Linked DNA regions of Homo sapiens: regions 2 and 3 are each reported to be linked to region 1. The links are microRNA targets in miRTarBase. Many come from high-throughput screens and were not tested one by one. Region 1 holds a microRNA gene; each other region holds the end of a gene's coding sequence.
Evidence for each region. The annotated mature microRNA hsa-miR-6870-3p reads GCUCAUCCCCAUCUCCUUUCAG and lies in region 1 at 2,622-2,643, shown strand. An mRNA with a match to its seed (bases 2 to 7 or 8) in the 3' UTR can be bound and repressed. Matches are read on the target gene's strand: a 7mer-m8 pairs with bases 2 to 8, a 7mer-A1 pairs with bases 2 to 7 and ends in A, and an 8mer does both.

Region 1 (4,182 bases):
CTTAGTGACTCCAGGATCTTTTTGGCAGATCTCAATTACTGTGGGACTCATCAGCCGTGTCTCAACGGGGGAACTTGTAGCAACACAGGCCCTGACAAATATCAGTGTTCCTGCCCTGAGGGGTATTCAGGACCCAACTGTGAAATTGGTAAGTGGTCCAAGATGAATGAGAGCCCTTTGTCTAATTTTTCTGTACTCAGCTTTTAAAAAATATACTTAAGGACTTGTTTAAGGAAAAAAAAGTGAAAATAGCTTCCAAAGATAGGCCTTATCCCAACCATTCTATAAGCCTTTGTAACTTTCAAGTCTCTAAAGTTTTTTGGGTGATGCTGATTCGTATAGGAGGCAGCGGGAGATGAAATGACCCCAGCTCTGAGATGTCTTGGAATGTGGTTAGAGACAGCTCAGCGAGAAAGATGACTTCCTTTCTTTCCTAGACACAGCAGGGTTCTATCACACGCTTGCTTTTGGTTTTTGAAATATGCTTGCACTAGTGGCTGTGGTGTGGGATTCGGTTGGAGGGGGGTGTGGGGAGGTAACGGTGTGCAGGCATCCCTCTCTGACTGCCATCCTGGTTTTTGCAGCTGAGCACGCCTGCCTCTCTGATCCCTGTCACAACAGAGGCAGCTGTAAGGAGACCTCCCTGGGCTTTGAGTGTGAGTGTTCCCCAGGCTGGACCGGCCCCACATGCTCTACAAGTAAGTCCAATTTTCAGCCTGTGTCCATTCTAAGGATCCTTGTGCCAAGATACCACGCTGGGGAGAGGTACCTAGGCTTGTCCAGTGTGAATGTCTCGGTGAGAGAGGGGCGGGTGCAGGCCTAAGTCTGGTAAGCAGTCTGGTGGCTTGTGTGTTTGGAAGTCTCCCAGCACCCCCATCCTGTCCCACTAAGGTAGCGCATGTATCTGTTCTTGGAAGGAACGTCCTCGTGGAATCGCTTGTTCCTTTGCATCTGCTTCCTGGAGCTGGCCACCTTCCAATTGTGGTTATTCTTCTTGCAGCCATGGAGAGGCTGCCTTCAGGGGAGGTTGTCACTTACTACTGGATTCTGTCATAGGGCCAGGGGGCCCCAGAGAAGAACCTGGCCTGCAGAGTTCCTTTGGCTGTGAGACAGGGCTGTATATCAGAATCACCTGGGCTGCTTTACAGTGTAAATCTCTGGGTCCCCCAGATTCCCTCCAGAATCGGGGAGTCCATGGTCTTTGATAAACTTCTGGAATTCTGCAGTGCAGCCAGGTCTGAGAACCGCTGTCATCAGCACCCCAGGTGTGGTTATGGATGTGGATTTCTGGGGTCAGATTGCCTGTGCTGGTCCTAGGCCCCCACCTGTCACTTGCGGAACTCCAGCAGGCCACAGAAGCTCCCCGGGCCCTCTTTAAATGGCACAGTAGCAATTCCCATCTCCGAGGTTGTCATAAAGACACAAAAGTGAATACTTCATAAATTGTTAGGAGTTGTCTCTGGTCAGAGCAGAAGTGGAGAATGCAGCCTCTAGGTGTGCTATTTTGGGCAAACTCTGTAAGCAAATGAGAGGAATAAGGTTTTCCACCTGTAAAGAACTATTTTTCCTGACTTCTTAGCTACTTCTGAGCCATGATGAAACTTTTCTTTAAAAATAAAGATTAGGCAGATAGAGATGTCCTGTGTTCCTCCTGGGCGGATGCTCCGTCAGTATCCAGCTGTCTTTCTCCCCCACTGCTTAGGTTGGGGATTACATGAACTGGGGCAGTGGGGGATTTAAAGCTAAAATCAAGGCTTCGGCCTTATCGTCACCGTCCCACTTGTCCTGCTGTAGCTTTCCTTGTAGCAGGTGTCTGGCTCTTCAATGACAGCCCCTCATGTAAGAGGTGATGTTAAAGGATCTAATTGTCAGATGGATTGAATTAAATTGTCAACCCCCTCCTTTTCTTGTTGACCAGACATTGATGACTGTTCTCCTAATAACTGTTCCCACGGGGGCACCTGCCAGGACCTGGTTAACGGATTTAAGTGTGTGTGCCCCCCACAGTGGACTGGGAAAACGTGCCAGTTAGGTAAGAACATCCCTGTGACTGTAATTTTTATACCAAGGTTGGCTTTGATTGTCAAAGCCATTACAGAAGACGAGCGTGTGGCCGGCAGTGTGAGTTCACACTCCATCATGCTAAGAAGTAATTTATTATCAAGAGTCTAGCAGGCCTGGGAGAAATAACTTGAATGCAAATGGACTAGCTCTTTTAGGCCCTGTGGGAAAGTCGTGGGATTCCTTGAACCATGTCAATCGTCTGTCCGAGGAGTGTTCAGCTGGGTTCCAAAAGGGGATGATCTCATGAGGAATGAGCTGTCTGCATTCTTTTTGCCACATTTAAATCCCAGCAACTAGGCTGCCTGGGTTTTGCACAGAAATGCCTGGTGGCTTTCTGCTGTTTTGTTGGGGGCTGGTTAACTAGCAGCTGGAAAGTTATCAATTAGGGTTCTTATTGGATAATAGCTAGGGAGAGGGATCAGATGCTTAAAATAGAGGGAACCTCTAGTATCTTTTATTTAGCTAGCTTATTAAAATGTCTCATGTCTCAGACAAACTCTGGCCTGTTCTTTTTTTTTCCAAGGTGGGGGAGATGGGGGTTGAACTTCATTTCTCATGCTCATCCCCATCTCCTTTCAGATGCAAATGAATGTGAGGCCAAACCTTGTGTAAACGCCAAATCCTGTAAGAATCTCATTGCCAGCTACTACTGCGACTGTCTTCCCGGCTGGATGGGTCAGAATTGTGACATAAGTGAGTGACTTTGTTTCCATTTTGATTTTCATGAAACTTGGGTAGCCGACTTGCTGGTCCGTACTGGGGCTCCAGTCCTAGGACTTGAGCAGTAGAAGGAAAACCTTAGAGTGGGAATGGTTTTTTGAGAGGGAGTGGTCAGGGCAGCAGTGAAAACATACACTTTATCAGGCTCATTAGCTGCGAAAACCAGCCATATTCTGATAATGTGGCTGAAACAATGATGTGAAGTTTCACTCCCTCATTCTGGAAGAATTAGGGAGGGTCCCCACCCAGCGTAATAACCTTATCTCACGGAAAGCACACAGGAAATCTGATTTGAAACTTATCTATCCTGAGCTGAGAAGGCTTTTCAATTAAGCCCAATTTCACTGTAAATTACCTCTTTAAAATGATGACTTATTTATTTTTTAGATATTAATGACTGCCTTGGCCAGTGTCAGAATGACGCCTCCTGTCGGGTATGTAAATCTTTGCTTAAATCAAAACTTTGACAATTGACAACAAATCTTTAGATTTGTGCGACACTAGGAGAGCTCTGTCCCTGTGAGATTTAAAAATTTGGGTGAAAAAAGAGTCTCTTGGAAGTTTCGCTAGGGCTTATGTTACCCCAGCCTCGTGGGAGTCATTTTGAAGGCATGCACATAGAAATTCCTCTAACCACTTTCAGAGGTTTAGCATTTGGCTATTTCAGTGAACCAGCTAAACCGCAACAGTCATGCTAAACCGCTGAAGCCCTGTGTTTGTGGAATACATAGAAAAAAAGCATGTGTCTCTCTCTCCCCTTCTCCTCTTCTAGGATTTGGTTAATGGTTATCGCTGTATCTGTCCACCTGGCTATGCAGGCGATCACTGTGAGAGAGACATCGATGAATGTGCCAGCAACCCCTGTTTGAATGGGGGTCACTGTCAGAATGAAATCAACAGATTCCAGTGTCTGTGTCCCACTGGTTTCTCTGGAAACCTCTGTCAGGTGAGTGGTGGCAAAACCTCAGATGGCCAAGTTTTTAGAGCAGAGCCGCTGCCTCCTCCGCTTCCCTTTACTTTTCCCTCAGCTCTTGTGTCTGGAATTTCCTAACATCTATTAACATCCTATTGATGAGAGAGTCTCTGCTAGACAAATGCTGGTGGAAGGAGATACTGACGAATTATTTTCTTCTTAGTGTCTTCGTCTTTGTGTTCTTTTTGGTTCCCTCCACCCCCTCTTGTGCTCCCTCTCCCACTCTGCCCCGTTGTTTCAAATACTGGACATTGGCAGTCCCTACAGCATAGAGATGTATCTTACAGGGTGTCTCCTAATAGAAACCGAAGGAACTGTCAGATTCCAGTGCCTGCTGCCCCAGAGAAGTTATCGTGACACCTTTGTTTTACTCTGATCCCTCCCCCTTTTCGCTGTTCCTGATATTTGCAGCTGGACATCGATTA
Region 2 (4,190 bases), not on the chromosome of region 1:
CCAGCTCTAACCTTCACAAATCTCCAAAATAATGATTATCTCTAGAAGGTAACAGATATCAAACATATGAACAACATATAGAGAGAAAAGACAAAAATGTGAAACTTTAGAGGAAGGTGGAGAGAGCTATGCTAAAGAAAGGAAGACAATTCCTTGCATTAAAAAAAGTAGGATGGAAGAGTTTGATTTACCTCTCTTTCTGCATAAAATCTGGACACTTCTTTAAACATTCCTTCTCACATCTCCCTTGCAAGTGTCTTCTCCCTGGATTTGGGCAGCACTCTGACTGTATTTTAAAAGCATTGTTTCTTCCAGAGAAATAGTTAACCTTACTTACTTTTGCAACTTCTTTCTCCATATTAGGTATGTATTTTACCTACAGTCATCTATACTCAGAAAGAAGAGACATCCTCGGAATCTTTCCCATTAAAAAAAAGAAGATGTGAAGTACAGCATTCCAGTGTGACACGAGAAAAGACAGGCTGTGGATTCAGTGCAGTAAATAAAACACAGGAAGTATTCTGGTGGAAAAATACCTTGTATTTGATAAAAATCCATTACATGAAATAACTGCACATACCCCCAAAACTCTAGACATAACAGGCTATGTTTTTCACACATTGTATTTTTAAGACATATATATTCTCCATACCCTGCTTCACCAAAATTCCTGCTTCATTTGGATTTTATACAAGTTATACTTACATTGTATGAAGTCTGATTATTTTCCTGTAAGTTTAATGAGAAATAGGAGATTAGCTGCAATAGATTCAATTAAATTAAGAAACCAAACTTGATAACCTAAATTACATGTATTCTTTTTCACTTCCAAGTTCCCAAATAGATCTGTAGGAGAAGAGGGATGGAAAATATATTCCACAGTTGCCTAGAATAACATATTTCATAGACAGATGTCTGTCTTCAGATCTAATAATACTCACCCTAAACATTAGATATGTTTAGAAAATTAAATATCTTTCCAAGCCCTATGTCTTAGCTCAGGTTGCTATAATAGAACACCATAAACCGAATGGCTTAAACAACAGCAAACGCTTCTCACAGTTCTGGAGGCTGGGAATTCCGCTCAGGATCAAGGCATCAGCTAATGCAGTTTCTGGTGAGGGCCCTCTTCCCAGTTTGCAGATAGATGTCCTTCTTTGTCCTCACATGAGAGAGAGATCAACTCTCTTATGTCTCTTATAATGGCACTAACCCCATTCATGAGGGCTCTACCCTCATGATCTAATTACCTCCCAATGGCCCCACCTCCAAATACCATCATATTGGAGGTTAGGGCTTAACACATGAATTTTGGGGGAACACAAAGATTCACTCCATAGCATTCTGTACCTGGTCCTACAAAATTCATGTCCTCCTCACATGCAAAATACATACATTCCATCTCGACAGCCTCAAAAGTCTTAACTCATTCCTGCATCAACTCTAAAGTCCAAAGTCTCGTCTAAATCAGATGTGGGTGAGATTCAAGGTAGAATTCATCCTGAGGTAAAATTCCTTTCCAGCTTTGAACTTGTGAAATGAAACAAGTTATGTGCTTCCACAGTACAATGGTGGGACACACAAAGGGTGGACATTCCTATTCCCAAAGCAAGAAACAGGAAAAAAGGAAGGTGTAATGGGTCCCCAGCAAGTCCAAAACCTAGCAAGGCAAACACCATGAGATCTTCAGTCTTAGTAATAATCCTCTTTGGCCTGATACTCTGGCTTCAGGACCCAGTGAGGCAGAGGTATTGCCCCCAGGACTATGTTGGAGGAGGATGACCCCCATATCACCAGGCGGAAGCTGTCAGGCCTGTTGAAACCAAGGCAATGACTGCCCCTTTTGAAACTGAGAAGGTACCACTGATGTTCTCTGAATCATTGTTCCGGGTCAGTTTCTCCTTTTCTTGAAGAATAGTGTACATTCACAGCTGAATAGCTCTATGGTCCCAAATTCAAGAAGTCCAACAGTCTTCCCTCATTCTGTCCCATCTCCATTCCTTTCAATACAAACTAGCAGTGTTCCTGCTGGGGTGGCTGATTAGGTCTGTGGTTCACACCCACATAAATCTAATTGGATGACTTGTCTGCTACACTCTTAGTGTTCTCTACCAAACGTGTTTTCTTATCTTTTTGTAATGCAGACAGACTGATAATTTCCCACATCTTTTAAGTTCTGGTTCCGTTTTTGTTAAGAATTCTGTCTTCATTTTTTGTCACATTTTACTTTAAGCAGTCAAGATAAACCGAGGCACTCCTTCAACACTGGTTGGAGATCTCTTCAGTTCAATATCTAATTTCATGGCTCACAATTTTACTTTCCACAAAACACTAGAACATGAACACAATCATCCAAGTTCTTTGGCATATTATAACAAAGATCACCTTTCTTCCAGTTTCCCATAACAGGTTCCTCATTTTCATTTGAGACTTCATCAGAATGGCCTTTATTGTCCATGTCTACCAACATTATCTTCATGGTGATTTACGTGTTCTCTATGAAGATGGAGGCTTTCTCTCCCACCCTCTTCTCTTTGAGCCCTCACCAAAATCACCTCTATCAATCCCTTCATGGCAATACTGGCTTTTTCTAGCAAAAAAACTAGTACCTCAAAACTCTTCCAGTACTCTTCCAGGTACTCTAGTACCTCAAAACTCTTCCAGCTTCTATCTGTTACCTAACGTCAAAGCTGCTTCCACATCTTTATATATTGGTTATAGCATCACCACACTTCTTGGTACTAATTGCTGTCTTAGCTTGGCTGCTATAACAAAATACCATAAACTGGGTGGCTTAGACAACAAATATATTTCTCACAGTTCTGGAGGCAGGGAAGTCCAAGATAAAGGTGCTAGACAATTAAGTTCCTGATGAGGTTCCAAGGTGCTAGCTGATTCTTCTTCATGGTTTGCAGATGAATGCCTTCTTGCTATATGTTCACATGGTGGAGGGAGAAACCATCTCTCCCTTATTTCTTATTGTAAAGGTACTAATCCCATTTATGAAGGTTCCAGCTTCAAATGCCATCACACTGGAGATTAGATTTTCAACATGTGAATTTAATGGGGGACACCAGCATTCAGTCCCTAGTGCTCTGATAGAGTATTCATTAATGTCATGTATTTGTTAACATCTTGTAAGTTATTTGGGCTTTGATGCCTTAAAAGAAGACCCTGGCCAGGCATGCTGGCTCATACCTGTAATCCTAGCACTATGAGAGGCTGAGGTGGGCAGATCAGTTGAGGTCAGGAGTTCAAGACCAGCCTGGCCAACATGGTGAAACCCCATTTCTACTAAAAATACAAAAATTAGCCAGGCATGGTGGCGCATGCCTGTAATCCCAGCTACACGGGAGGCTGGGGGCATGAGAATCGCTTGAGCCCAGGAGATGGAGGTTGCAGTGAGCAGAGATTGAGCCACTGCACTCCAGCCTGGGTGACAGAGTGAGACTCTATCTCAAAAGAGAAGACCCTAATGAAAATAGTAAACCTTTAGCAAATACACAAATGATGCCCCATTCTGTATTCTTTTTAATTTTAAAAATAATGACACACACATACAGGAAGATAAAAGGTATAAAAATATACTAAGTACTTTTTAAAAAGGAAAATTCATGTTTTGGATTATTACTGAATTGTTGCTAATTACTGTAATGTAAGTCATATGTCCTTACATAGTTTTGAAAAATGCTTTCTTTGAAAATCTAAAAAAAGTGTGAATAACTGATAGTCATTGCTGTATCATTGATGTATCACTCAATTTTTGGTAAAGAATTATAAAGATCTTACCTAGAAACTATGTAAAAAGGTATTAAATATATTGTGATGTAAGAATAGGATAATAAAAATGTAATTTTAAAAATGGGTAACTTATTTCCACTAAAGAAAACATTTGGAAAGAAACAATTGAGTATTAGGCTACTTGAAATCTTTATAAATATATTTGGATTTTAAAAAATTATCCTTTTAAAAAGCTACATTTTTTCTGCTTTTATAGTTATCTTCTAAATTTCAGAAAAATTATGAAAAGCTTTAGTGTGCAAGGAGAACATAAACCCTTTGCAAATTTTAGGTGAGTTAATCTTAATCACTCCAAATAAAGATGGCTCCTTACACTGCCGAAGTACATGTACAATCAATCACTAAAACAAAGAGAAAATTAGAGAAACTACACTTTACTGGGTCATTAT
Region 3 (4,155 bases), not on the chromosome of region 1:
CCTCCACTTTCCCGGCCCTTGCCCTTCCTCCTGACCTTGGCCTGTCTGTTTCAGAGTGGCCTCCCCTGCCGGTGCCGGTACCCTCCATGCCCTGAGCCGCTACAGCCGCTACACGAGCATCCTGGACCTTGACAACAAAACCCTGCGCTGCCCCCTTTACAGAGGCACCCTGGTGCCCCGCCTGGCAGACCACCGCACACAGATCAAGCGGGGCAGCACCTACTACCTGCATGTCCAGAGCATGCTCACCCAGCTCTGCTCCAAGGCCTTCCTCTACACCTTCTGCCACCACCTGCACCTGCCTACCCACGACAAGGAGACAGAGGAGCTGGTAGCCAGCCGCCAGATGAGCTTCCTAAAGCTGACCCTGGGTCTGGTGAATGAGGATGTTAGGGTGGTCCAGTACCTGGCTGAGCTGCTGAAGCTGCACTACATGCAGGAATCTCCAGGGACCAGCCACCCCATGCTCAGGTTTGACTATGTCCCCAGCTTTTTGTATAAAATCTGAGGTCGGTCCCAGACACTGTGACCAAGACCTGTGACTCAGGGTATGGGGAGGGGAGGGGTTGGCATGACCAAACAGTTGCCTGAGCTGGACTGTTTAAGTTTCTGGTGTCTGGCAGCATGGTTCCCACGTGGCTCCTAGTAGTTTTTAAGTTGGACATGGGCAGAAGTGGAGCCTGGCTCCCTCTAAAGGCGTCTGGAGGGATGGTGACAGCTACATTTGGCTCCCTGGTGAAGAGTGGCCCCTGGATATGGAGGGGGCCTTGGTTTTCTGAGGACTGGCAGCCAGGGCAGAAGGGAAGCCACCAGTCCCTTGGTGGGGCAGGGTGAGGGCAGGAAGGCCAAAGCCTGATGGGAGGAGCACACTGGCTGTATTCAGCATTGCCGGACACTTGAGTGGCAAAATGAACGAGGGTGACAGCCAGGTAACTGTTGTGGTTTGGTGGAAAACAGGAGGGCAGAACACCCATCGCCTCCTTCAGACCCAGATGCAGCCCTTTATTTGCTTCCTGGAGCCCACTGTCCTAGGGGAGGCCCTGGACCAGCCAGTGGGGGTGAGAAAGGCTGCCACCCTCTGGGTCGTGGGAAACATGCGACCTTGGCCTCAGGGCCACAGAGCGTGAGCAGCACCCTGTCCGCTGTCCTCGCCACCTTTACCTGGGAGAGAAGTGCCTGTGAGCGGGCCTTGGGACTCACTCCCCATACTCTTTCACCAGGAACGAGCAGAGTGTTCACTAGTCCTAGTGTGAAGCGGGCACAAGTGACCAAAGCCAATGGTGAGGACCACCTTGGGGGCTGGAGAGCACAGCAGGCAGAGCAGGGCTGAGGCGCCATGAGGCCATCACCACCATGCAAGGGAGGAGCAGCCAGCAGCTCTCCTGGGTGGCCCACTGGCTCCTGCCGGCCAGAGCGCATGAGCACTGACCTTCCTCGTGGGGAAGGTCTGCAGACCCGTGTGAACATGGCAGAGGCCACACTCCAGCTCCCACCCACATAAACCTTTGCAACCACTTCACTACCTCTCACTGGGTCTCGTGGGCTTGGGACAGCAACGGTTCTGTTTAGTCAGCTGGTGCAGGTGGTTGGCCCAGCCGATGAGAACTCAAATAGCACGGATTTCCTGGATGAGCTACCACGTGGCGCTCTTCAGGTTCTGCCTCTGGGAGGCTGTGTGCACCTCAGTCACCACAGCTCACGGCCGTCCCCAGTTGAGTCCCCCTTCTGAGGACAAGTTTGAAACTGGGAAGGAGACACCCCCTGGTTCCGCCAGCACCTATCCCACTGATAGTGATCCCCTGGCCTCCCCGAGCCTCCTTAGGCAATGGCCACTGGTTTGTAGACAGAGAGTTTCTTGCAGCCTTGAAAATTTTATTCCCTAAGTGGGGACAGCTCTGGTATTACTGCTTCTTTAATTTGTTCCACAAAAATTATGCTGAAATGGACCTGAATCAGCCCTGGGTGTGCTTCTGTTGGCGCCTGCTGCTGAGGCCCGGCCTGCCCATCGGCCTGTAGTACGCCATCGAGGTCATCATGGAGCCAGCCAGCTTCTCTTCTCATCAAGGAGGCAGAGACCCCTGGTGGAAGCCAAGAGTGACCGAAGAGGGCTTGCATCACGTCACTCCAGTGGTTCCCTCCTTGTCCAAGTCCTCGTTTTAAGGGCATGGCCCGTTGGCTCCAGCCGTTGGCTTCTGTTCAGGGTCCTTGCTCCCATCAGAGGTGTTTGATTTTGCTCCTGGGGCTGCGATGGAGAACCTTTTGTGGCAGATGGTGCTGCCTACATCTCATTGGTTCTCTGTACCTGTGCCCGTTGCGCATGTTCACAGACAGGAGAGTCGCCAGCAATACCTTGGCAGCCTTTAAATGTGAAACGTCTGTTACTTGCGCTGGAGGCAGAGGCTGTGCAGGGAGCCTGCTTCTAATCGTGGGCTCCCTTATCTGTTACGGTTCCCTCCCCTCCTGTTCTAGATGCTGATTCGTTTTCTCACTGGCTGGTTAATTGCTGTCTACTTAGGCCTCCAAGGCCATAACTGTGCAACATTTTATCTGAGAAGGAAGGAAGGTCAGAAAGTGATCACTGGCACCACCACTGTGGCATTCCTGTCACACCAACACAGAAATTCACAGCTCATACTGTTCTCACCTGGGAAACTTGGGAAGGGCTGATGAGTTTGGGGCAGATCCTGAATTGCAGCCACACTTGGCCTTCTAGAAGCTGAAGTTGTGCCCTCAAGTGGTCCTAAGTAGAAGTCCACTTGAGGTATTTGCTGGCACACACCCTCAAGGGTGGTTCAGAAGGTCCTGAAACCTAAGGCAAAAGGCTGCTGGGGCATGAACAGAACAGACCGTCTCAGGGGCAGCCATGTAAGTGGCAAGCAGGGCTGGTCTCCCTCAAGGTGGTTCTTCATTAAGTAAAGATGGCTTCGTGACTAGTGTTTAGCTCCCAGATTTATATTTGGGTTAAAAACTAACTTTTCAATGTGGCAGTTTCAAAGGATTACTTGATGCAAAGTATGTTTCCTTTCAAAGGGATCTTGACGTGGTACCAGGACTGAGTCATGATTTGGGCAGAGGCAGTTAACACTGGGAAGCCCTGCCCCTCCCTATGCCCCCTTCACTCCGGGGAACTGAAACCTACTCTGAGTCTCACATCTCTAAACCTCAGTGCTGAGACCTATGCAGTGGGACTAATCTCATCAAGAATTTTCAGTTGAGGCCGGGCGCAGTGGCTCACGCCTGTAATCCCAACACTTTGGGAGGCCGAGGTGGGCGGATCACCTGAGGTCAGGAGTTGGAGACCAGCCTGGCCAACATGGTGAAACCCCATCTCTACTAAAAATACAAAGAAAGTTAGCCAGGTCTGGTGGTGCGTGCCTGTAATCCCACTTACTCGGGAGGCTGAGGCAGGAGAATCACTTGAACCCAGGAGGCAGAGGTTACAGTGAGCCGAGATCGCGCCACTGCACTCCACCCTGGGCAACAAGAGCGAAAACTGTCTCAAAAAAAAAAAATTTTTCATTTGAGGTATTCTTCCAGTAGAAGGTTAGTAAGTTTTTAATGAAACCATTAAAAATTACACTTCCCAGAAAATAGATGACATCAGTGCCCCTTGCTACTTTCTCAGTCCTCACTATTGCTTTGAGGGCCCAGGTACTGAAACTGGTTGTCTTGAGTTTTGTGTCAGCTTTTTCTCCAGTCCATTATCCCCCTCCCTTGCTTCTGAAGCAGTCTAGGTTAAACTAGCCAGGCAGGTAGTTGTGGACTGGTGATTTTCAAAAGCCCCACTTTAGAGATCAGGCCACAGCTTTTTATATCGCACAGGACACATCAGCCTGAGCTGCTGCCTCATGCCTGTTTCCCCAGGAACCTCACTCCTTTGGTAGAACCTTGGGATTTTAGAAATTGTGGCTTTTCCATAACTCATTTACTCCAACAGTTGAAGTTACACACATTGCTCCCAAATTTGGAAATAGACCACAGTACCTTACCTTTCATTCCCCATCTGGCCTTTACCTTCTTTGCTTCAGTGGTTGAAAACAGTTGCCATATTCAAAGTATAGTAGATTTCAACCTCACACAAATGACAAGTCCCATTTTACAATCCTAGGAAGGCCCACCAATTTCATTTCACGCGCCAGGGCGGCTGCAGTTGGA

Region 2: the mRNA of HACD4 is a reported target of hsa-miR-6870-3p. The part of its 3' UTR that is shown has no 7-base or 8-base seed match.
Region 3: the mRNA of SMCR8 is a reported target of hsa-miR-6870-3p. Seed matches in the 3' UTR shown: 7mer-A1 at 1,598-1,604 and 7mer-m8 at 1,627-1,633.

Annotation. Positions count from the first base shown.
Region 1 is chr20:10,648,097-10,652,278 of GRCh38, reverse strand. MIR6870 (microRNA 6870) reads left to right here and starts at 2,584; the gene lies at 2,584-2,643. JAG1 (jagged canonical Notch ligand 1) reads left to right here. Exons shown (of 26, transcript NM_000214.3): 7 at 29-148; 8 at 585-698; 9 at 1,919-2,032; 10 at 2,644-2,757; 11 at 3,172-3,218; 12 at 3,557-3,730; 13 at 4,169-4,182. RefSeq lists a silencer at 804-1,098.
Region 2 is chr9:21,003,293-21,007,482 of GRCh38, reverse strand. HACD4 (3-hydroxyacyl-CoA dehydratase 4) reads left to right here. Exons shown (of 7, transcript NM_001010915.5): 7 at 364-4,190. The coding sequence ends at 446. Among named protein-coding and RNA genes, the nearest start is that of HACD4, 26 kb to the left of the region's middle.
Region 3 is chr17:18,322,563-18,326,717 of GRCh38, forward strand. SMCR8 (SMCR8-C9orf72 complex subunit) reads left to right here. Exons shown (of 2, transcript NM_144775.3): 2 at 55-4,155. The coding sequence ends at 508. Among named protein-coding and RNA genes, the nearest start is that of SMCR8, 9.3 kb to the left of the region's middle. RefSeq lists enhancers at 1-132, 133-632 and a silencer at 3,162-3,271.